Linked DNA regions of Homo sapiens. The protein of the gene in region 2 purifies or fractionates together with the protein of the main gene of each other region. This does not show direct contact. Each region holds a gene or a part of one and is shown on either strand. Other genes may lie near its edges.

Region 1 (7,368 bases), on a different chromosome or scaffold from region 2:
GGCTTTTTATTTGAGGTTCAAAGTCCTTACCACAGGGCCCAGCAGGACCTACCTTCTGGCCTCCTCTCCAATTTCATCTCCTAAACTTTTCCCTATTGCTCCCTCTACTTTCGGTTCCCATATACCAGGGGCAATATGACCTTGGAGCCTCATGGTTCTCTTGGCCTGGAACTCTCTTTTCCCAAATTAATTGTACAGCTTGCACTCTTACTTCACTCAGGTTTCCATTTAGATGTCAAAGGTCTTCCTTGACCATCCAGTCTACAAACGGCCCACTCATTCTCTCACTACCCCACCCCCTGCCTCACCTGTCATCTCTGTCCTCTTTATGTTTTTATTTTTCAAAGTATATCATGACTTGATATACTTTAAATGATACATTACTTATCATTTAAAAAATATCTGCCTACTTACACTAATATGTGAGCTCAGTGAGTACATACACTGTGTCTTATCCATTTTTGGGCCCAAGCTTCTACAACACGCCTGGCACACGGTTAATATAAATGCTGCTGAATAAATGCTGAATGAATGAAGGAAGGAATAAAGGAATGAACAAACAAATGAAGGGTCCATATCATGGGACACAGGAAGAATGTGTCTAAATTTATAAACCTGCTATGATTACAGCCCAAGTATGTTATTTGATGACGCTAAGTTAAGGGTCAAAAAATAAAGATAAATAAATTACTAATATCATATAAATTCTTACTTATAGTGCTAAGAATGTATATGTCTTTTTTTATTAAAGAACTGGGTTTTTGTTTTTATTTTTTTGAGATTGGGTCACACTATGTTGCTCAGGTTGGTCTTGAACTTCTAGGCTCAAGTGATCCTCCTGCCTCAGCCTCCTGAGTAGCTGGGATTACAGTTGCACACCACCATGCCTGGCTCCAAACTGATGATATTTTTAAAAAATTAAGTGAGAGGAGATAGGGACAAGATAGAACCAACCCTCACCCAACAATTAGAGAATATATATTCTGCCCAAGCACAGATAGAAAAATTTATAACTTGACCATTGTGACAGGCTGAAAAGTGGCTCCCAAAAGGTATGTATGTCCTAATCCCTGGAACTTGTGAATGCACCCTCTGTGCCAAAAAGTAAAAGAAAAAAGGAAAGCAAAGGTATTCATAGACGTGATTAAGGATCTTAAGATGGGGAGGTTATCCTGGATCCTAGTGTGCCCTAAATGCAATCACATATATTCTTAAAAGAGAGGGGCATAGGAGGAGAAGGTAATGTGACTGAGGAGGCAGAGATCGGAATGATGGGGCCACAAACCAAAGGATGCTGGCAGCCATCAGATTAAGGAATGGATTCTCCCCAAGAGCCTATGGAGGGAAGGTGGTCCTGCTGACATTGTGATGTCAGCCCAGTGATACTACTTTCAGAACTCCAGAACTGAGACAATACATTTTTGTAGTTTTAAGCCATCAAATATGTTATTATTTTTTAGGGAACAAATACAAGTTTCAATAAATTTCAGAGTTAGTTTCACTTAGAATTCTTTCTGACCAGGAGGCAAGAGTCAGAAACCAGTTAAAACAAGAAGAAAAAAAAAGCAAAAAAGAAAAATAAATTCTGACATATTTGGACATTAACAAACACTTCTAAATAATACATGGACAAAAGAAAAACCATAATAGAAAAATATAAAAATACTTAGAAGTGAACAAAACTAAAATCCTTCAAATTAAACCTATAAGATACACTAAAAGCAGTGCTTTGCTTGAAATTTAAAAGCTTACATTAGAAAATAAGAAAGCTGTCCAGGCACGGTGGCTCATGCCTGTAATCCCAGCACTTTGGGAGGCCGAGTGGGTAGATCACCTAAAGTCAGGAGTTCGAGACCAGCCTGGCCAGCATGATGAAACCCTGTCTCTACTAAAAATACAAAAATTAGCCAGGCGTATGGCTATTGCCAGTAATCCTAGCTACTGGGGAGGCTGAGGCAGGAGAATTGCCTGAACCAGGGAGGCAGAGGTTGCAGTGAGCTGAGATCATGCCACTGCACTCTAGCCTGGGCAACCGAGCAAGACTCCATCTCAAAAAAAAGAAAGATTAGGCCGGGCGCAGTGGCTCACGCCTGTAATCCCAGCACTTTGGGAGGCTGAGGCAGGCAGATCACGAGGTCAGGAGTTTGAGACCAGCCTGGCCAATACGGTGAAACCCCATCTCTACTAAAAAATACAAAAATGAGCTAGGCGTGGTAGCACCCTCCTGTAATCCCAGCTACTTGGGAGGCTGAGGGAGGATAATCGCTGGAACCCAGGAGGCGGAGGTTGCAGTGAGCCAAGATTGTGCCACTGCACTCCAGCCTGGGCAACAGAGCAAGACTCCATCTCAAAAAAAAAAAAAAAGAAAGAAAGAAATATTAGCAATAAGCTAACATGTCCAACTTAAGAAGTTAGAAGAAAGACAATAAATCAAAGAAAGAGCAAAAAAAAAGAAAGTAAAGAGCAAAAATTAATAAAATCAAATACAGAAGTTATAATAGAGGGGGCCAACAAAGCCAAAAGTTTTTTTTTTTTTAAAAGACACAAGGCATAAAAATGATATGAAGAATGAAAAAGAAAATATTATGACTACAAGATATATTAAAACCTAGGTAAATAACTTATAAAAATCAAAAAGTCCTAAAGCTGTTACCAAAACTAAATTGGTTACTAAAAATCTTCTCACAAAGAAAATGCTACGCCAAAATTGTTTTACAGGCAAGTTTTACCAAATGACCAAGGAAAGATCATACCACTCTTATATAAACTTCTCTAAAAAACTAAAAAAGGAACATTAACCTAACTAATTTAGTAAACCAGTATATCACTAATAAAAAAACAAAATAAGAACAGTATGAGAGAAGAAAATTATAAGCCAGTATCATTCACGAACATAGATGCAAAAATCGTAAAATATTAGCAAATGGAATCCAGAGGGGAATAAAAAATAATGAGTCATAACCAAACCGAGTTTATTTCATGAATGCACATCTATATTGTTGAGAGATTTGTGCCAAAGTATTTAAGGGTAAATAATATATCTATAATTTTCCTTGAAATGGTTCAGAGGGGGAAAAAAGAGGGAGAAATGAAGCAGATATAGCAAAATGTTAACAACTGTTGCACATATGTATCGAGAGGTATAGGAATGTTCATTGTCTAAACAGCAAAAAAACTTGGAAAAAATCATAAAGATAATTAACTATGGTTAGACAAAATACCAGAGATGTTTGATATGTAATATTGAGTGAAAAAGCAAGCTGCAGAGACTACGTACAGAATGATACCATATTTATAAAACTCAGAACTATGCAATACTAAAAGCGACATTGCTGAGATTGATATGTAACATATACGCTGAAACTACTTTTTAAAAAGGAAGGAAATGATGAACACAAAACCCATAATAGTTCCTCCTGGAACTGTGTCGAGGAGGCAGAGGAGTGGGTAGGGAAAGAGCACAGACTGGTAAAGTTTTGCTTCTTAAATTAGGGAGGAGCTCCCTGGTATTCATTTCCCCACTGTGCTTTACAATTTGCATATGTTATATGTACATATCAAATATTACATGATAAATATGTAAAGTATATATTTTTCTTACGACCTTGTAATACAGATATAATGAACCTATTTTATTGTCAAAAAGCAATCAGTACTCATTCAATACCTTCTGTGTGTCCAGGTTCTTCTAAGGAACTATTCTTTTTGTGAGGAACTTTCTATGGAAGCTGGTTGGCCCACAGCTTTTGCAGATGATCTGCTGCCCTGAGTACACTCTAATGACCAAGACCACAAGTGGGCCCCTAACTCATCTAGGGTACGTACTGTATCGTATATGCATTTTTTTAATTCTTAAGATTTCCTCAAAAGTCCTGGACGCTCAGAAGGTATTAATAAATGCCACCATACGATAGCCAAGTTTTCTTTCTCTTGGGAATCTGAACTGAGAGGTGCAGAGTTAGCCAGGCAGCCAGGAGCAGGAAATGCAGTTGGAATGAGGCATACACTGGGCAGCTGAGGAAGAACAGGAAAAAGTGACACACAAGCTGAAACAGTGAGGATACAGAGGGTATGAGGTGGAGCAGACAGAGTAAAAGTTAAGAACAGGCCAGTTAGGATCACAAGCATACACAGAAAGCAATAGCAATGCCACCAAGGTATCCACGGAGTCCTTGAGAGAGACTGAAGACACCTGCTAGTCACAGGGCTGCTGTTTCTAAGAGGCCCAGCTCTATTGGTATTCCTAATCTTGGATGCCTTATAAGGTCCTTTCTCACTGGCCTCCATGTATCCTTAAAGTAACCCTTCCACCACCCTCCGCCAATTCACTCTTATTTGAGCTACCTTTAGGGAGGATCTATCCCTGGCAACCGGGTATATGTTACATGGAAAATAAGTCTAGTTCCTCATTAGACTTATCCTACAGTGGCTGGGCATGGTGAATCATGCCTGTAATCCCAGCACTTTGGGAGGCCTACATGGCGGATCACTTGAGGTCAGGAGTTCACGACCAGCCTGGCCAACATGGTGAAATCCTGTCTCTACTAAAAATACAAAAACTAGCCAGGTGTGGTGGCAGGTGCCTGTAACCCTAGCTACTGGCCAACATGGTGAAACCCTGTCTCTACTAAAAATACAAAAATTAGCCAGGTGTGGTGGCAGGTGCCTGTAACCCCAGCTGCTCAGGAGACTGAGGCAGGAGAATTGCTTGAACCCAGGAGGCGGAGGTTGCAGTGAGCTGAGATCACACCATTGCACTACAGCCTGAGTGACAGAGCGAGACTCTGTCTCAAAAAAACAAAAAAAGATTTATCCTACAGTGTGGTTTGGGTAGACTATGCCCTTAATTAGCATGATTTCTCAGGTTCAGAATGAAAAAAAATGGGACAAGCCTTTAAAGAAATAAGAGAATTTTAGTAAGATAAATGTGGTATATCTACCTATTACTAACTTTTCTAGACCATTTTTAATTACTGCTATCTTAAGCAATGTCTGTTAACAGAGATGGGTGATAAATCATGTTTTAGGAATGAATACATAATGAATCAAGTCTCCTACTGGGTACCAACAAAAAACAACTAATAACATTACTGATCCAGTGACTCCCATAAATAATTAGTTAAACTCACCATACCAGTCTCCATGTTAGGTGGATTAAGGTAAGTATGTGGATTTCTAATGTAACCATCTTTGTATGGCTCATCTGGAAAGTGATAAGCATTAGACCTTTTGAAATAGGGTCTGTCGTGAGGCAGATTGAAAAGATCATGTAACTCCTAAAATAAATCAGAATCAACAGAAAAAGAAAAAATGTTGGTGATTTAGATTCCTAGTCAATAAATAAAGATGTTATTAAACATGGAAAATTATATATAGGTTATAAAAGTTTCCAAACACTTATGGTTTAATTCACTAACATCAAAGATGGTGAAAACTGAACTAAAACCAAGTAAGATTTATTTTCGTTTACGTCTGTATCTGGGTAGAAACTGGAAGGGAACAGAGAAAAATGAATATAAATTGTTAGAGTAAGAGAACTAATTTTTAAATAATTATTTATTACAACATAGTCTGTTAAAATACATCCAGGCTAAAGACTGGTTTTGAAATAGCCTTGTAAATGAGTAAATTATAATTAACAATAATTATATCAAAGTATTTTGCAAAATTGTGTCGAGTGCCTTACAAATATTTTATATTGTAAGTGGTAGTGATTAAACTACAGAGTAGAAGTTAGTGGTCTAAAGCCAACCAATATGGCAGGAAAACAAATACACATATATGTTTAAAATGTGTTATTTTCCCAACTATATAAAAACATGTAATAGGTATTTTAAAAAGTTTGACATGTTCTTTATCATATCTTGTACTCCAGTGGTTTTAAAAGATCAGCTCCTGTAGCTATTGCTTCTACAAACCAAGTCACCTCCACATACAGAGGGTCAGGGTATTCTCGCTCTCCCTAAGGACAGAAATTAGGAAGATGCTCCACGGTCTAATTTGATAGGTTCTAAGCGAGTCCACATATCAAAAAGATGCACTCCAAAACCAGTCATGAGTAAATCTCATTACTTTGAATGCTGGTCATGTTTTCTCCAAAATTCCTCTAATAAAGCCCAAATAACCTTACTTGTGGAGTATTACCATAAATCCTATTCAGAATTAGCATAAGTTATCATTTTCCTTCCCTAACTGTAATCTTGTCTCTTTCACAAATCGGAAAGTTATAGAAATCTGTTAATACCAGCAACTTTAGGCATGTAAGCACCATTTCTATATTTCATTATGGAAAAATATTAAAATTTCACAGAATATATGAACCACACCGAGCATTTAAAATTAAAATGTTACATATAGGTTCAACATAACATTTTGTCATTAATACTACTTAAAGTTTCATGAGAACAGAAATTAAATAATGTGTAAAATGAATAGTCTAAATTCCACACTTTTAAGTTAAATCACAAAATACCTTCCATTTAGTGGAAATATATAATTAAATACAAAATGAATGATAGTCATTATTGTTTTTTCTAAGAATAGATGAACTGGTTTTACCTTCCTATAGGCCTGCAGCTGGCCATCTGGTATTCCTGAAGGATATGAAATTGTTACAAGATTTTTTTTCCCTGGTAATAAAAAGTGCAGTGGTTCAGGGACCACAATAGATGTTCCTTTCATATATTTCAAAATACATTTTTCCATGTCAGTTAGTTGATTATGAATTGCATCAACCAGGAGTTTACGAACTCTGTGGGGGGAAATATATAAGTGTATTAACAAAAGTTATAGTGACTACAATAAAGAAAAGTACAGAGCTAATATATCCTTAGTATAGTAAAAAACTTGATTGGACCAGGTTTGCTAAAGGAAGTCTGAATTATACATTATAAAAGAAACTGTGTATTTGCTCTTTGTGGATAAAGGGAAATCCTCCAGGTTTTAGCATGCTACCCTACTTCCTCCAAATAACCATTTAATTAATAGATGGCTCTTAGGTTAATAATAAACAAGGAGAAAATCACACCTTAGGTATACCTACAGGATATACAAACATGGGTTTGGGGAAGGGCCCTCATTCAAATGTGGCAGTGGTACTATAAAAATACTTACTTTCCCCATGTTTCTTCTGGAGCAACAGATATAACTGCATCGACAGGTAAAGTCATATTAACATAATGGTGTCCTCCGCTTTCCCTTTCAATGATGGGCGTTACAGCTGCCAGGGAGGTTGACATTTCCAGCATAAGATCTATATTTACTATTTGATGCTATATAGATAAACAGTAATAGTCAACTTGTAGTGCATTAAACACTAAATATAAAGAGTAAGTAAAAAGACTTTTCAAAAATGTATTTATTATTAAG
Region 2 (7,736 bases):
TGTCACTGAGGCAGTCAATACACTAAATTTCTTATCAAACTATTACTAGGGGAAAAAAATCAGATTTCCCACACACTGTAAGCAGAACCGAAAGAGCTGCAGAGAAACTTGGTTTAAGAAGCTGTGTGAAGAAAACATTAATGACTTATTGCAATTGTAATAATCCCCAGGTAAAAGATGGATGTCAAATTAATGGACTGTAAGGAAATACATTCAAACTTAGGTCATTAATATTACAGTGAACATAATCAGGAAGCTTGCAGAAGTATGTAGCATCTCTGAATTATTGAATTTGAACAAAGGTTTCCAATAGAGGTCACACTCTTTTTGCTCTCAGACACCATTAGTGCAGATTCAGATACAATCATTTTTACATTTGCAGGCTCAGGTACGTTCAACAGAAGGTCACCGAGAAGTATGGGCTGGTTATTTTAGCATGACAGAATGCAGGCTTGGAATTTCTCCTTGACATGGCAGAAGAAATAGGAATGATGCCCAGAGGACTGGAATAAATTCAAAATGCTTGGTTTTCCAAGTTCTATTTTAATAAACTTCGGAAAATTAACCTTTCCCTGAAAGACACGTCCTTGGTTTGGCACACAGGGCTTTCCAAAACAGTGAGAAACGAACTGGCCATGTGCTGCACTCACACACATAGTCATTCTTTTTGCTTGGGGTTGACTAGGTTCATAGGGCCAGATTTTCCTCAGTGTCCTCTTGTAGCAGTGCCGCAGTGAGCTTTGTGATTCTGACAAAGGGTGCCATTATATCCACTTTGAAATGCATTACAAATATTCTGCATGCTGGTGCAACTGGCATAAAATCTGGAAAGCCACCGCCCCCCCCCCCTCCCCCGCCGCAAGAAGTGCCCAATTTCTTCTCTTTTCACACTTCAACATTTCAAATGACTACACACAGAATTACCAGAAACAGTAGTAAATTCCTGGCATTCGAAGTTCCCATGATCCCAGCTGGCATATAAAAAAGACTCTCTCCTTTTTTTCCCCTGAAAATAATGTACTCTCCAGGCACTGTTGAAATGCTTCAAATCAGGCAAATGAGAGATTTGTTTTGACCAATCAATGAAAAGACTTCCCCCTCTTCTCCGTGAGGGCCCCAAGACTGGGTTACGCCATACACAAGATGTCTGTTTCTAAAGAGACTTCACTGATTTCCCTAAAATGATTTTAACATTTCTTTGCAAGTGAAGCTCTGATGTTGCCTAATGTTATTTTCAGAGTAGCCTGCTGCAGGATGCCTAATTTGAGTTTTTATTTCCCTGCTATAAATGTGACAATCTGAGTATGTTTTCATTCAAACCACCTTGAACATGGTGGCTGAGGCTTCACCACAAATGTCCAGAAAATAGCACTGGAGTCTGTCTGAGTCCTGAGATGGTCAAATCTCAGAGAAATCCAGCTCTGGGCCCGGAAAGGAAAGTGCCATCTCTTAACCTTTCCTCAGGAAAATTATTTTATTGATTTTTTTGCCTTATTTTCATGCCTTTTAAGTCAAAGGAAGATAAATGGAAAGTCTCTTTTTGGTCATTCACTAATTCTCTAGGGCAAGTCACATAATTCTCTAGGACAAAGGCCTCCATGATGTTAGGATGAATGCCATAGAAGAGGTATGGGGGGTGATGGCTGCATTTTAGACTAATCATAGGCATATCCTTTGCTTTCTCTATGTCAGGGGTCTCAGCATTGCTTGCAGAATATGTGCCCCAGTGTCTGGATGTCTGAATGACCTAAATTTGAGCTGGTCATCAATGAGTATTTATTAGCACATTGCTCTTAAGAAGTTAATAACTCGGCCAGGCACGGTGGCTCAGGCCTGTAATTCCAGCACTTTGGGAGGCGGAGGTGGGCGGATCACCTGAGGTCGGGAGCTGGGGACCAGCCTGACCAGCATGGAGAAACCCCGTCTCTACTAAAAATACAAAATTAGCCGGCTGTAGTGGCATATGCCTGTAATCCCAGCTACTTGGGCGGCTGAGGCAGGAGAATCGCTTGAACCTGGGAGGCGGAGGTTGCAGTGAGACGAGATCACGCCATTGCACTCCAGCCTGGGTAACAAGAGCAAAACCCCATCTCAAACAACAACTAAAAGAAGTTAATAACTCTGCCTAATAGCACATTTAGATTTTTATTTTTTTTTCCATGAATCATCTCCATTCACTCACTCTTAGGTTTATACTTTCCCCTAAAATTCCCCCATGAAACTTCTAAAATTAGTTTCATGCTATGTATTTGTTTGATAGGCACAGAAGGTTTACAGCTGCATGGTCAGTAAGCGATACTTTGGTCATGAATGTATATATACATATATATTTGCAATGCTGAGAAAAAGAGAGACTGCTGTTAAAAATCAAAATTCTCGTGGAATGAAGAGAAGCCACTGAGATTTTTTTCAACCAGAATGAAAATAAATAAAATATCACTATCTGCCAAATCAAAAGCTTTTATGTTATTCCATTATGAAAGACATTTATTGAGTAATTTGCAAATGTTAATAAGCCTTAGAAACTAGGAAAAGCTGAGTACTAGTTTATGACTTACATTTAATTTTTTTTCCAGCCTTTTATCCTGGGTTTAAAGTAACACAGAATCTTTCAGTGTCAACAGTGAGCTGGAAATTAACCTATAATAACAAGTTTTGAGCATTTTGCTCCTCCAGGCAAAATTTGGTCACTCATAATAAATATATTATGAAGAAGCCAATGATGATGTATTCCATAAACTTGTTATGAAAAACTGACTCCAGAAATTATGTGACTTTACTTGAATAATTACCATTTTACTTCTCTACAATAATCATTGTGAGAGCAGTGGGCATTGGATGGTTGAAAAGTTATTCCAGACAATAATTAGGCAGATGTATTACAATTTAAGTTGAGGCTAGATCAACTTAATCAAAACCTTAAGAAGTAATACCATGTTATGATATGACAATGGTAGAACAGGAAATTATAGACACATTTGAGGCTGGAGTTTTCTGATTTCCCTGATTGTCTTATGTCTGGGATGGTCTAATAAATGACATAACCACCACACACACCTAAAGTGCAAATGCTTTTTTGATACACTGGTGTTTCTGAATACCTCAAAACAGTGATATTAATAATTCAAAACCCAATAGAAATATTGGGTCGAGAAATCAAACTTCAACTGTTGCATCTGGTCAGTAAGACTGCAGTGAACTAGAAAGTATTCTTAGGTCAGGGAGAATTTTGAGTAACTTTTTTTCTCACAGATAAAATTAACAGGTCTACAGCACAGACATGCAGTGATATATTATGTTTCAGACACATTCTTCAGGCAAACAGTTTCTAGTTCCCATTTTAAGTAGAATAGAAAATTGGAGTTGAAAATTGATAGAGTATTGTTGATCCTATCTACTTGTAAAGTCTGGTTTAGGGATGTTATTGTATTATAATGATCGGTTACATGCCTGGACTCTCACTACTGTATATCACAAGTTACTAGCACAGTCACTTGGTTCCAGTAGGTGTTCAATAAATATTTCAGTGAACTGAACAGTTAAATAAATGAACAAATAGGGAGATGAATCAAAGTGCTCTGTAAAATGTAAAATGCTTCACAAACATAAGGTAATAGGAGTATATAAAAGGTAACACCACAGACCTCGCATTATCTGCCCAAAAAACCTTATAAGGACAAAAATGTTGTAATAGTTTGAAGAGCAAATAAAAATTGCAATTATATATGTGGTCAGAAAATCAGCTATATAGATCATTCATTTTCAAATATATTTGGGAAGAAATAAAACAAAGGCAGAAAAATTTTAAATGGCCAAAATAAATTGTATTGCTAACTTAGATGGCCACAGATGGGGGCAGGGGTGGAGAGAGGAGAAATTGAAAACACCACAAAGACCCCGCAATGGCTAGAACTTGAAATCTCTGGATATTGCAACAATAGCAGCCTCCTTAAGTCAGCAAAAAGATAAAGATTGATCCAATGTTCTATATTACAGAACAGAGCAGATTGTCAATATAGCAAATAAAGTTACCGTTGAGTGGACTGCGCTGTCTAAGCTGCTTGGTTGGCCTTAAGTGCCGACAATTAAGAGATGAAGGCAATGAGAACTGAAACAAACATTTAAGTTCAAGACCCAGTTTACTGACACTGGGACTATTACTATATCTCTTTGGGCCTCAGTTTACTTATCTGTAACATTAAGAGGTTGGATTACATGATGTCTCACGATTCTTTTTTTTTATTTAGAGATGGGGTTTTGCTCTGTTGCCCAGGCTGGAGTGCAGTGGCATGATCATAGCTCACAGCAGCCTCTAACTCATGGGCTCAAGCAACTCTTACACTTCAGCCTCCAAAGTAGCTGGGACTACAGGCATGAGAAACCACACTTGGCTAACACACACACACACACACACACACACACACACATAATTGCTATCATCTCTATCAAATATACATATATATTTGATATATATGTATATTTGTGTGTGTGTGTGTGTGTGTGTATATATATATATATATATGTATATTTGATAGAGATGGGTCTCACTATGTTGTCCAGGCTGGATCTGCCATGACTCTGGCATATGACGCTGATAACAAAAGTGGGGTTGGAGGTCGTGAAGTAAAAGCAGCAGTAACTTGGAAAATACCTAAAGAAATACAAACCAAAAGAACATTTCACAGGAGGAAGAAATTAGAACCAGATAATCTAGTTTTCAATTAGTCTTATTTAAATATTAATTTCCTATCATAAACGAAAGCATCTTGAAGCGATCTGTGGATCCTGGCAAAACCTTTCTCAAGTGGGCAATAGACACTAGGGACGTGATCAAATTTATACTCCCTCATGAAGATGTAACATAAGAATCTGTTGCGAAAAACTGATAAATGATACTAACCTTAGAATATGTATCTGGATATTAGCATAATTTAAAATAATTTTATTCCCTTTATATAGTCTGCATGTGCAAAGGTTTACATTAAGTTCCAAATAGTTTTATATTTTAATGCCATAGCTCCTTAGTGTTACAGTGATAAAATAAATATGAAATTATTTATGTTTGAGATAGTGCCTTCTAAATGGAAGCCTCCTTTTGCTGTTAAGTGTAAAATAGGAAATCATAAGAAACTAGAGAAGCTAAGTGGCTCTATGCAATAAAGAACTGAGCCAGTTGAAGGATGTTCATAGGCAATGTTGTGAAAGAGTGGATAAATACATGGGATGGATGTCATGTGGGACAAATACTAAAGGAAATATTCAGATGGGCAGAAAAGAAACTGAAGCAATTTTGCTTTGTGTTTTGAATGCATTCTCTTTTTCTCAAGATACGTGATGAACTGATTACCTTTGAACGCTTTTTGCACTGATGAACTATTCTTCCTTTGAATGCAAATTTGTGCTGGTACTCGACCAAAAGTCGTACTTTATATGGGTTACATTAACATAAGGTTTTTAAGAGTCTGCACATCTGTACATTTAATCAGGTTGCATAATAATCTTGCAAGAAAGACAGGACAAAAATTGTTTTTCTTTTCCAAAATTGCAAATTGAGACTCAAGGAGGTTGAAGTGATTTTCCCAAGATAACACAGTGGGGATTTAAAGCTGTGTCAGCTTGTATTTTTTTCATTACTCCATAGGGCCTCTCTAAAATCAAAAATGCTTGGATATGCCCAAGAGCTACCAAATCTTGTTTCTTTCCTCTTCTTCCCTTTTCTTCAAGGACAACGAATTCAAATGAAACACAGCATTGTCCATTAAAATTTTCTTCAACCACGGAAGTGTTTCTTGTTATCCAATATGGTAGCCACAAGCCAGGCGTGGCTATTGAGCCTTTGAAATGTGGCTGGTGTGACTGAAGAATTACATTTTTAATTTAATTTTAATTAATTTTAATTTCAAAAGCCACGTTGGCTAGTGGATATAATATTGGACAGCACAACTCTAGAAGCTACATATAAGAGATTGGCAAATGCCCTTGATACCTCAAACTAAAATAGTAATTGGGGGTCAATTGCACTTTTAGTTTTCTAGGTGTTAGTATATCTTGAAGTCCAAACCCTTCACACACAAGCCACCATTTATGGTCAGTGCCATCTCTTGGGCTTAAGCCATTTATGCCTGAGGTTGCAATTTTTTGAATTTTTGCAACCAGACCTTGGTGATGACCTTGAGCAGTAGGCTCTAAATAACTCCCATAAGCTTAGCGTTCCAATAATGGAACACTAGACATAAATGGGTCAAGATATTTTTCTTGAGTTTCAGTATCTTTACCTAGTCACTGATTATTATTTTTACAAATAATTAAGCTGAAATAACTAAATTCCTCTGTAGCACCATTTATCTGATTTATCCAGAAGTTTGCATCTCTTTGTTATCTTTTTTTGTTATTCTATTATGTTCATAGTATATTAAGTAATGTACAGTTGCACCTTCTCTAATACATAATTATGTAAAGTCCAAAGCATTGATGACCATTTTGAATTTTCAGAAACTGTATGTTTTCTCACATGGGAACAAGAACAAACCAGAAATATAAAATAGAATGAGAGTTTCATGAAAGAAAAGGATTTAGCCCACATTTCCCCTTACCACTAAAGAATTCACACACCACACACTTCTCACTACCTTTAACTCTTAGTTCTGTTAAGAAGTTTTCCCACACTCCAGTTTCAAGAAGTTTTCTCTATTATTTGTTGCTTTGGTTCACTGAAGAATTCAGTGTTTATGTTTTTTTACAGAATTATCAATTGTTTTGAATCAAAATAGAAAATTGATTCAAAATTGTTTTGAATCAATTGTTTTGAATCAAAATAGAACGCTGAAGGGTATAAGAATAACATTACTACTTGAGAATTAAGTAGTACTTAAGGGACACAAACTAAGAATACACATGCAAGATTTATATAACTGTCAAACAGTTGCTATTGGAAGCCACAGCTACCACAAAAGGTAGTGAAAGAAGCATCATTTTATCCTAAAAGGAAGTCGTCTATGTGTTCCTTATGCATTTGTAGAATACCAGTTGCACCAGTAATATTGGCATGTCATTTGGTTATTGCTGTCTCACCAAACCTGCTCCACAAGAATAAGTGGGGATACTTCACATAAACCATACATAGCTGCTGCAAAGAGATTGTCATCACAATCCTTCAATCACCTTGCTTTTCAAAATTTTTTTTAATAGTTAACTAAGTTAGGAAAAAGTTACCATCTTCATCAAATACTTAAAATTGTAAAGCAAAATATATGGAATAGAAAATGGCATTCGTTCACGTCAGACACTTGTGATGATAAAGTATGGTACTCTGTGAGTGGACTGATGACCAAGGCAGATGTGTACAGATGCTAAACTGTTGGGAAAATGCTGCTTATGAGACATCTCTGCTTCTTGAGACCTGAATCTGCAAATGTTGAGCACTGTACCTTACAAAAGCCAACAGTTTCTTGGCACAGAGTGTAAAAGTTTCATGGGTTAGAATGTTGGTGAAATTGTACACTCAGTACCTGAATTTAAACTTTAGGAGCTCAGTATGTATATTAACCACTTTCCTTCTCAAGGGATGCCATTCCTTTCTTCATTCATGAGGAATTTTCAAAATCAGGATTGTGATTCCAAGGCAATCGATATCTCCATTTAAGGAGCTTTCTGCATCCACTTTATTTAGCCAGAGAGGGAAGGGGTTGACATAAACGAAAAAGTGGATCAAATAGTCAAGAACATGATGGGCGCGG
Region 3 (8,114 bases), on a different chromosome or scaffold from region 2:
GTTCCATCATCCAGCCATGAAAGCACAGCTGAGTGATCCAAGAGGCAGTTCCAATTGTTGACTAACGTGTACCTGCCTATGTGAGTGTGTCCTATGGGAACTCAGGCCTTAGAATGGTTTCAAAGTAGTGGCTTTCAAAATTACTGTTTGCCTCTTCAAACTTCACACCTAAGGAAAATGGAAACATGCAGAGCAGGGACACAGAAGGGGCATTAGCTGGCGTGGGGTAGGGGCAAGAGCTAATTGTGAAGGAAGAAGGCCTGAGATCACGTAGCCATGTCGGAGAACAGCTGTGCTCGCTGCCCTGCCTCTTTGCGCGCATGTCAGGCAGCCCCAGGCTCCAGCTGCTTGAGTTTCTCTTGGAGTCCCCGGAGCTGGCTTCGACCCCAGTCAATGCGGTTCTGGAGGCTGGCTATGTCTGCGGCCAGCTGCAGGCCTGGAGGAAAGGAGAGAAGGTCACCATGGTATCTGTAGTGTAACACACGACCCAGGAGGATCTGGATATCCCCAGAAATTGGAAAGGCTTCAGGCCTCTCTGCCCCCCACACTTGTCCCAAAACATTCCAGGTACGGCCCTGCATTGGCTGCTCCAGAACCTCTGAGGCCTTACACCTCCTTCAGGTCTTTGCTAAAATGTCACCTCCTTAGACTTCCTGGACCCATTATATCACCCACCAGGAACTAAAAATTCACAGATAGTAATACCATTTCATGCCCTCATTTCCTTCCTTCCCCCATTATTACAGCATCTCTCTGCCCTCACCTGCTCTCCCTCCACTTCTTTTCTCTGTTAGTCCACACTCTGGATCCACCTCTAGATGGCTTTTGCTGATGTCTCTGCTGGAACAGCTGCTGCCCAGTCCTCCGGGCAGCTCTCGTCTTCGGCCTCCTGTTCAGCAGCAGGGCTGACCACACATTGGATCACTCGCTCCAGGAAACACTTTCTCTTCTTGGCCTCCAGGACACCTGCCCCCAGGTGTTGCTCCTCAGTTTCCTTGACTGGCTTCTCCCCTCTTCTCCCTCACCTCCCGTCCATACTCCCCAGGCCCTCTGCTGATCTCATCCTATCTCAGCTTTAAACCAGTGTTTGTGTCAAAAACTTTGGAATTTAAACACCAGTGCTATGCAGTGGACTCCCAAATCTCTCTCCAGCCCAGGCCTCTCCCAAACTCCAGATACATGTGCCCAAGTGCCCACTCAGACTCTCCAGCAGGGCGTCGGTGGATACCACACAGACCACACCAACTCCTGCCTTCTGGAATCCTCTCAGCTGCCCACAGCAGGTGAGGGTCGCTCCATCCTCCCAGGGGTTCTGGGTGGAGACCGCAGGCTCTCCTGGACTCCTTTCCTTCCCTTACTCCCATATCTTATCTGTCAGCAAATTCTGGGGCTTCTATTCTTAAAACCTGTGCAGGTTCCCACCACTTACCTCCTCCTCCAGTGACGCTATCTGCTTCTCACACTGGCTGCTCCCTGACACCTACTTCCTCCCTCTGCTCTGTGTCCCCGCCCAGCACCCAAGCATTCCTGTGACCCTGTACAGCCAGTTGCACCATCCTCTGCTCAGAGCCTCTCTGTGGGTCCCACAGTCTTCATCAGGGCTTACATCACCTGACTCCACTCTAGGCCACCGGCCTCGGCACATACCAGATATATCTGGCTTCAGGGCTTTTGTCCTGGCTGGTTCCTCCATCTAGAGCACTGTTCCCCAAAATCACCCACAAAGCTTTTCCTTCACCTCCTCAGAGAGACCTCCCCTGGCCCACTCCTGTCCCACTCCATTATGTGTTTTTCATAACAATTTTCACAGCCTGACTTATGTTAAGGGCCTACTTATTTGCACGTTGCCTTTGTCTGCTTCTAAACATTACATGAAAAGTGTTTGTCTCTTTTGTTCCCTGCTGTATCCCCAGCAGCTAGCATGAACCCGAATGCTGCCAACAACCAGTAAATGCTTTTGGAAAAAATAATGGGTGTACAACGGAAGTTTGGATGGAGGAAAACCTGCAAAGCCTTTCACAGACTAACCCCAGCCATGGCAGCAGTGCTCAAGTGTTCCCTGTGGATAGAGGGTCTGAGGGCCACAGAGCCAAACAACACGGTCCACTCACCATCCCGGAAGCTTGCTTGAGCCTGACGTAGACTGTGAGGAACTAGGATTCCAAACCAGTTCAGGGGGTCCTGAGGGGCCTCAGAGGACTCCGGTTCTGGGGTCTTAGTGGGGCCCTTGCGCCTCCGCAGACCTGAGGAAAGAAAGGTTGGAGGAGGCTGGGATCTTACTCCCTGACCTTTATCATCTTGGTGACAATGTTGAGCTTGATCTGAGCTCATGATTCTATAAAACACTGTTGGTTGGAAAATTCCAACTTTGGGGTTCCAGGAAACAGCTTACCACAAAACACAGCCTTTCCCCTTGTGATTCAGATGAGACTGTTTGTCCACTCTTTCCCGTGACTCCTGTAAGACCCACTGATGACCCTGTTTGCCTGTGACACTGATCTTACCCATTGTACCTGAACATGCCAACAGACCAGACATAGACGTTCCAACTCCCCATTCTTTGTCTCAGGATGATTAACTGGGATTAGAAGTTTGTCCCTCTGAAACTAGCTAGACACACAGATAAATATTTTCTGTTCAGCTGACTGAAATGTATGTGATTGTAAATCTATTCCCAGTGTAAAGCAACTCACCAACAATTTCTCTACTTCCTATAAAAGTCTAAGGCAAAACCACCCTACAAAAACATTCTGTTCTTCTGCTCTGGGATGCTCTCTCTTATCGCAAAAACCTAATTTAAATCATCTCCATAATTTGCATTTTGTCTTTGACACTGGGAAGGGGTTCTGCAGAAGGAAGAGGGGGCTCACCTGCTTCGCGAGGCCCCACCTCCTCTGGGGCGTGGACACCAGCTCTCACCACCTTGAACTTCTGGAGTCCCTCCTGGGCCTCGCTGAAGGACGAGAAGGGAGGATGGAGCTTTGGCAGCCCGGGCCTAGAACGCGCCCGCCCGCCCACCCAGCCCAGCATGGAAGCTTCCTCACCTGGCGTGGAGGCAGACCTGGGGCTCCATGTGGGAAGCATACTGCAGGGGCCCTACCGACTTGGCGCCCATCGCGTAGCGAGCCTTGGCGAGCGAGAGCCAGCCCTGCAGGGAGAGGAAAGCGGTGAGACTCAGTTTACGCCCGTGTACCCTCCTGCCCGCCCCAGGCGCCTACCTCCTCCACCCGGGCGTTCAACACCGTTCGTTTCCCCTCCAGCTCCTCCAGGTCCCCAAGCAGCTGCAGGACCAGCGAATCCAGCTCCGCTCGCAGGTCAAGCGCCGCCATGGACACACCTCCAGATCTGGAGCCACCTTCTTCCTTGTCACCCTCCGCAGTTTGGCAGGACAGCCAATAGGCACACGAGATCCTCCATCAAGGGGCGTTCCCATCTGGGGATCCCCACGCCGGCAGCACCAAGGCCTCTGGGTCAGCTTCTTTAAGGGCAAGCGCCCTTAGAGAAGCAGCACGGAAGCAACCAATCAACTGGTTTCTCCAATTAGCCCCCAAGTGGATCAGCCTGCTGAACTGTCGGCTAGGGTTATAGGTGGTTCTGAGTCCTTCCGGAAGCTGCCGAATCTTAGAAGTCGCGCCACTGTTGTGGCGATGGAAGAAGGCGAAGCTCTACAGAAACCATTTTGGTTGAGGGAAGAGTGGTTTTAAAGTTAATTTGGAAAGGAGCCGGCAAGCAACCTTCAGTCGGTGTGCGGTTTTTACAGTTGAACTGTTTCCAGCCGCTAATTATGATTGTTTTAGCGGTTCGTCATCTGAAAACTGCATTCTGCACGGCGGTGGTGGGGGGAGGACGAGGATGGAGAAGCCTGGGCGGACATATTTATTAGCTGCGGTCCTAAGTCACGTGTGACATTCTGTATCCAGTCTATCGGTTATCCCAAGGAGAACGCCCTGCCGGAATGGCCAATCGCCTTGAGATGTCCCCGCCCTATTCGCCATCTTAACATAGGGCATTCCCCACAGCTGCAGGCACCAGTGAAGCGTCTAAGGGACCATCTTGGTTGAGGGCGGAAGTGAGGACTGTGTCGCGCTGGAGGAGCCCACAGATTCTCCCGGACCCACGTGGAAGCGGCACTCAAGATGGTAGGAGAATGAGCTCCTGTTTCGGAGGTCCGGGGCGCGTGAAGTGCTGGGGATGTGGCTCTGGGGACTTGGAGGCTCAGCGGCTCCGGGGCTCCGGGGTTCCGGGGCTCGGGAGCGAGTAGTGAGTGACTGGGCCTGCTGTTCCCACAGCTGCGCCGCGAGGCCCGCCTGCGCCGCGAGTACCTGTACCGCAAGGCCCGGGAGGAGGCGCAGCGCTCAGCCCAGGAGAGGAAGGAGCGGCTGCGGCGCGCGCTGGAAGGTAAGGCATCGGCCCCGCGGGCGTCTGCGTGGTAAACCACCCCGGCACGCATTTGTGTTCGAATATCCGAGCGTCTTTCCAAATGCTTGCCGGCCGTTTTCCTTGCCCATTGGGTTCTCCTGTTGGTTTTGAGAGTGTTTCTTCCGTGTGATGGTATTAATTACTTGTCACTGACGTTGCAGTACCCGGGTTTTGCAGCTTGCCCGCTGTGTGCAGTGTGTCAAGTTCGTCCCAAGTTTTAAAGACTTTATCTTGTCCTGTAGAAATTCTCTTTAGAGCGGTGGCTCACTGCTGTAATCCCAGCACTTTGGGAGGCCGAGGCGGGCGGATCATGAGGTCAGGAGTTCGAGCCTGACCAACATGGTGAAATCTCGTCTCTACTAAACATACAAAAATTAGCCGGCCGTGGTGGCACGCGCCTGTAATCCCAGCTACTCAGGAGGCTGAGGCAGGAGAATCGCTTGAACCCGGGAGGCGGAGGTTGCAGTGAGCCGAGATCCTGCCACTGCACTCCAGCCTGGGCAAAAAAGCAAGACTCCGTCTCAAAAAAAAAAAAAAAAAGAAATTCTCTCTAAAGACTATCTGGATAGCGCTGGTGCTGCAGACTGCGCTGCCCATCCTCCCTGCAGGAGTTCCTCTGAGCTCCGTGGGGAACAGTGCTGGCCCCGAGTGCGCACCTGGAGCGCTGTGCTCTGCGGTAGGCAGCCTGTGGTCCAGGGCCCGCTGAAGCCATGCCTTCGAAGCGCTGTGGGCATCGTGACCAACGGTTTTGCTGTCTGAGAGCTTAAAGGTCTCTGGTCCACCATCATACGTACAGAACAGTCTATATTTCTTTTCAAAAGTAATTTTTAAGGCCGAGCGCTGTGGCTCACGCCTGTAATCCCAGCACTTTGGGAGGCCGAAGCGGGTGGATCACGAGGTCAGGAGATCGAGACCATCCTGGCTAACACGGTGAAACCCCGTCTCTACTAAAAATATAAAAAATTAGCCGGGCGCCGTGGCGGGCTCCTGTAGTCCCAGCTACTCGCCAGCCTGAGGCAGGAGAATGGCGTGAACCCAGGAAGCGGAGCTTGCAGTGAGCCGAGATGGCACCACTGCACTGCTCTGCCTGGGTGACAGAGCGAGACTCCGTCTCAAAAAAAAAAAAAATCGATGTTTAGATTTCTACCTGATTATAAAAGCAATACAGTACATTAAGATATTTTAGAAAGTCCTCAAGTCATGAGACTAAAGAAAATGAAGTCCTAGTAACCACTGTTTATGGGGGTTGGCCTGTAGAAAGTTTTGTCACCTCTATCCATGCTTTATCCAAGCTCAGAAAGGGCTGAGGTATTTTTATTTCAAGCATGTGCAGGCTAATAAGCTGTGGTGTATTGGATGAGCTGAGGTCTCCATGCTTGTGACTCACTCAGCCCCTCTCTCTTCCCTCTGCAGAAAACCGCCTGATTCCCACTGAGTTACGCCGAGAGGCTCTGGCCTTACAGGGGTCCCTGGAGTTTGATGATGCTGGAGGTGAAGGTAACTATACAAGGTAGCCCTCCCCAACACTGAGCTGGCAGGTCTCCAGTCCTTCCTCAGACACACCGGGCACCATCCCATCAGAGGAAACTGCTCCTGGAACTGTCCCCCATGCCCTTGTCACTGCACAGATGGCATTGCAGGGCTCTCCCTGAGTGTGCCCTGTCCCACTTACATGGCACACATGGGAGTGCCTCACTGACTCTGCACCTGGCTTGTTAATTACCTCCCCCACTGGAGTGCCTGCTGGGGAAAGACAGTGTCCCTCACACATTATTGGTGCCCATACGTTTATTCACTGCATTATTCAAGAAACAAGAAAGGAATCCCAAACATTATAGATATTTGTTACGAGGGAAAAGAGTTTGTCACCGTTGGCCTTAGCAGAGTGTGGATTTCGTTGTGTAATGGAGTAGCTGCTTAGCCCCATGTGACTAATATAGCTTAAGCAAACTACAATTAAACAAAAGATTCTGTTTCTCAGCCACGCTTGTGCTCAGCAGCCAGAGTAGTTGGAGGCTGCCCTCTTGCCCGGTGTGCATGTGGAGCATTCCTATTGTTGAAGGCTTCGGCAGACAGCGACATCCAGGCGGTCTTGGCTGCCCCGAAGTTAGCATTTCATTCCCAAGACTGTCATGTTCTTGCCCCTCGTGCTCCTGACAGGTGTGACCAGCCACGTGGATGATGAATACCGATGGGCAGGAGTCGAGGATCCCAAGGTTATGATCACTACCTCCCGAGACCCCAGTTCCCGCCTCAAGATGTTTGCAAAGGTACTGGTGAGCAGGGAGTGAGGGAGAGACACCCAGGACACACAGCCCCAGTCCTGACTGTACACTGCCATCCACGCCCAGGAGCTGAAGCTGGTGTTCCCGGGCGCCCAGCGAATGAACCGAGGTCGACATGAAGTGGGGGCACTGGTGCGAGCCTGCAAAGCCAACGGCGTCACCGATCTGCTGGTCGTTCACGAGCATCGGGGCACACCTGGTAAGGCCGGAGGGAGGGAGTCGGGGTGGGAGCCGTCTGAGGGCAGACGGGGTCTCTGACAGCCACCTTTCCCCGCCAGTGGGGCTCATCGTCAGCCACCTGCCCTTTGGTCCTACTGCCTACTTCACGCTGTGCAATGTGGTCATGCGGCATGACATCCCAGACCTGGGCACCATGTCGGAGGCCAAGCCCCACCTCATCACACACGGCTTCTCCTCCCGCCTGGGCAAGCGGGTGAGTCTGGGGGCCTTCAGGCTGGGGCTGCGGGCCAGGCCAGGCATTTGCCACTCTGTTTCCCTCTCTTTCCTTGTGCCCCAGGTCTCTGACATCCTCCGATACCTATTTCCCGTGCCCAAAGATGACAGCCACCGGGTCATCACCTTCGCAAACCAGGACGACTACATATCATTCCGGTGGGTCCACGGGCCATGCCCCAGGAAAGCATCCCCACCCTGTGTACCTCGTGCTGCTTGCCGTTGACCCACAGCTGTTCCCTCCCAGGCACCATGTGTATAAGAAGACAGACCACCGCAACGTGGAGCTCACTGAGGTCGGGCCCCGCTTTGAGCTGAAGCGTGAGTTTGAGGCTGAATCCCGTGTCTGGGGTGGGGAGGGGAGGCTGGCTGTGCCGGGGCTGATGCCATCCCTGCCTGCAGTGTACATGATCCGTCTGGGCACGCTGGAGCAGGAGGCCACAGCAGACGTGGAGTGGCGCTGGCACCCTTACACCAATACCGCACGCAAGAGAGTCTTCCTGAGCACCGAGTGAGCACACTCACCACTCAGTCAGGACATGGACTTGGAACTCAGGATGGGGCTGTCATAGACAGACCCACCAGTAGGAACTGTCACAGAATGGCCTGCTGAACTGGGATGTGGAACTGTGGCGGGTGGAGAGGTCTGAATAAACCGTCTGTGTCATGGCCCCGCCTGCCTCTGAGTGGTCAGGCCAAGTCTGCAGGGCAAAGCCCATGGGATCCCTTTGGGTGGGGACCTGATGGCTGTGGGACGTGCTTGGGCCTGGAGTCAGTGTGGGGGTTAACAGAGAGAGAGATTTGATGCTAACGTCCCCTCAAGAGTGAGGGTCATATGAGCTCTTCAGCAGGCAGATGTGGGTAGCAGGGCCAGCCTGTGTCAGGGGCAGCCCACCAAGTTAACTCACTGAGTGGAAGCCGCCAGTGTGCCAACGCGGAGGGGACAGGCCACACCCA

What was found.
Region 1: the proteins of PLXDC2 (region 2) and UFSP2 purify together in Homo sapiens (co-immunoprecipitation; 3 studies listed by BioGRID and IntAct, with this or other methods). This does not show direct contact.
Region 3: the proteins of PLXDC2 (region 2) and VMA22 purify together in Homo sapiens (affinity purification with mass spectrometry; 2 studies listed by BioGRID and IntAct, with this or other methods). This does not show direct contact.

What each region holds. Positions count from the first base shown.
Region 1 is NC_000004.12:185,408,597-185,415,964, forward strand, and holds part of UFSP2 (ufm1-specific protease 2), read right to left. Parts: intron 7,272-7,368; coding exon 7,114-7,271; intron 6,752-7,113; coding exon 6,559-6,751; intron 5,277-6,558; coding exon 5,130-5,276; intron 3,818-5,129; exon of another isoform or gene 1-3,817. UniProt on the Homo sapiens protein: Thiol-dependent isopeptidase that specifically cleaves UFM1, a ubiquitin-like modifier protein, from conjugated proteins, such as CD274/PD-L1, CYB5R3, DDRGK1, MRE11, RPL26/uL24, TRIP4 and RPL26/uL24.
Region 2 is NC_000010.11:20,281,099-20,288,834, reverse strand, and holds part of PLXDC2 (plexin domain-containing protein 2 isoform 1 precursor), read right to left. Parts: 3' UTR 1-7,736. UniProt on the Homo sapiens protein: May play a role in tumor angiogenesis.
Region 3 is NC_000002.12:130,338,797-130,346,910, forward strand, and holds the start of VMA22 (vacuolar ATPase assembly protein VMA22), read right to left. Parts: upstream 3,338-8,114; 5' UTR 3,330-3,337; coding exon 3,219-3,329; intron 3,149-3,218; coding exon 3,045-3,148; intron 2,954-3,044; coding exon 2,871-2,953; intron 2,244-2,870; coding exon 2,112-2,243; intron 967-2,111; exon of another isoform or gene 764-966; intron 437-763; coding exon 324-436; 3' UTR 1-323. Other genes in the region: U3 small nucleolar ribonucleoprotein protein IMP4, read left to right, coding at 4,137-4,139, 4,290-4,398, 5,833-5,916, 6,580-6,689, 6,771-6,903, 6,983-7,316, 7,405-7,478, 7,560-7,672. UniProt on the Homo sapiens protein: Accessory component of the proton-transporting vacuolar (V)-ATPase protein pump involved in intracellular iron homeostasis.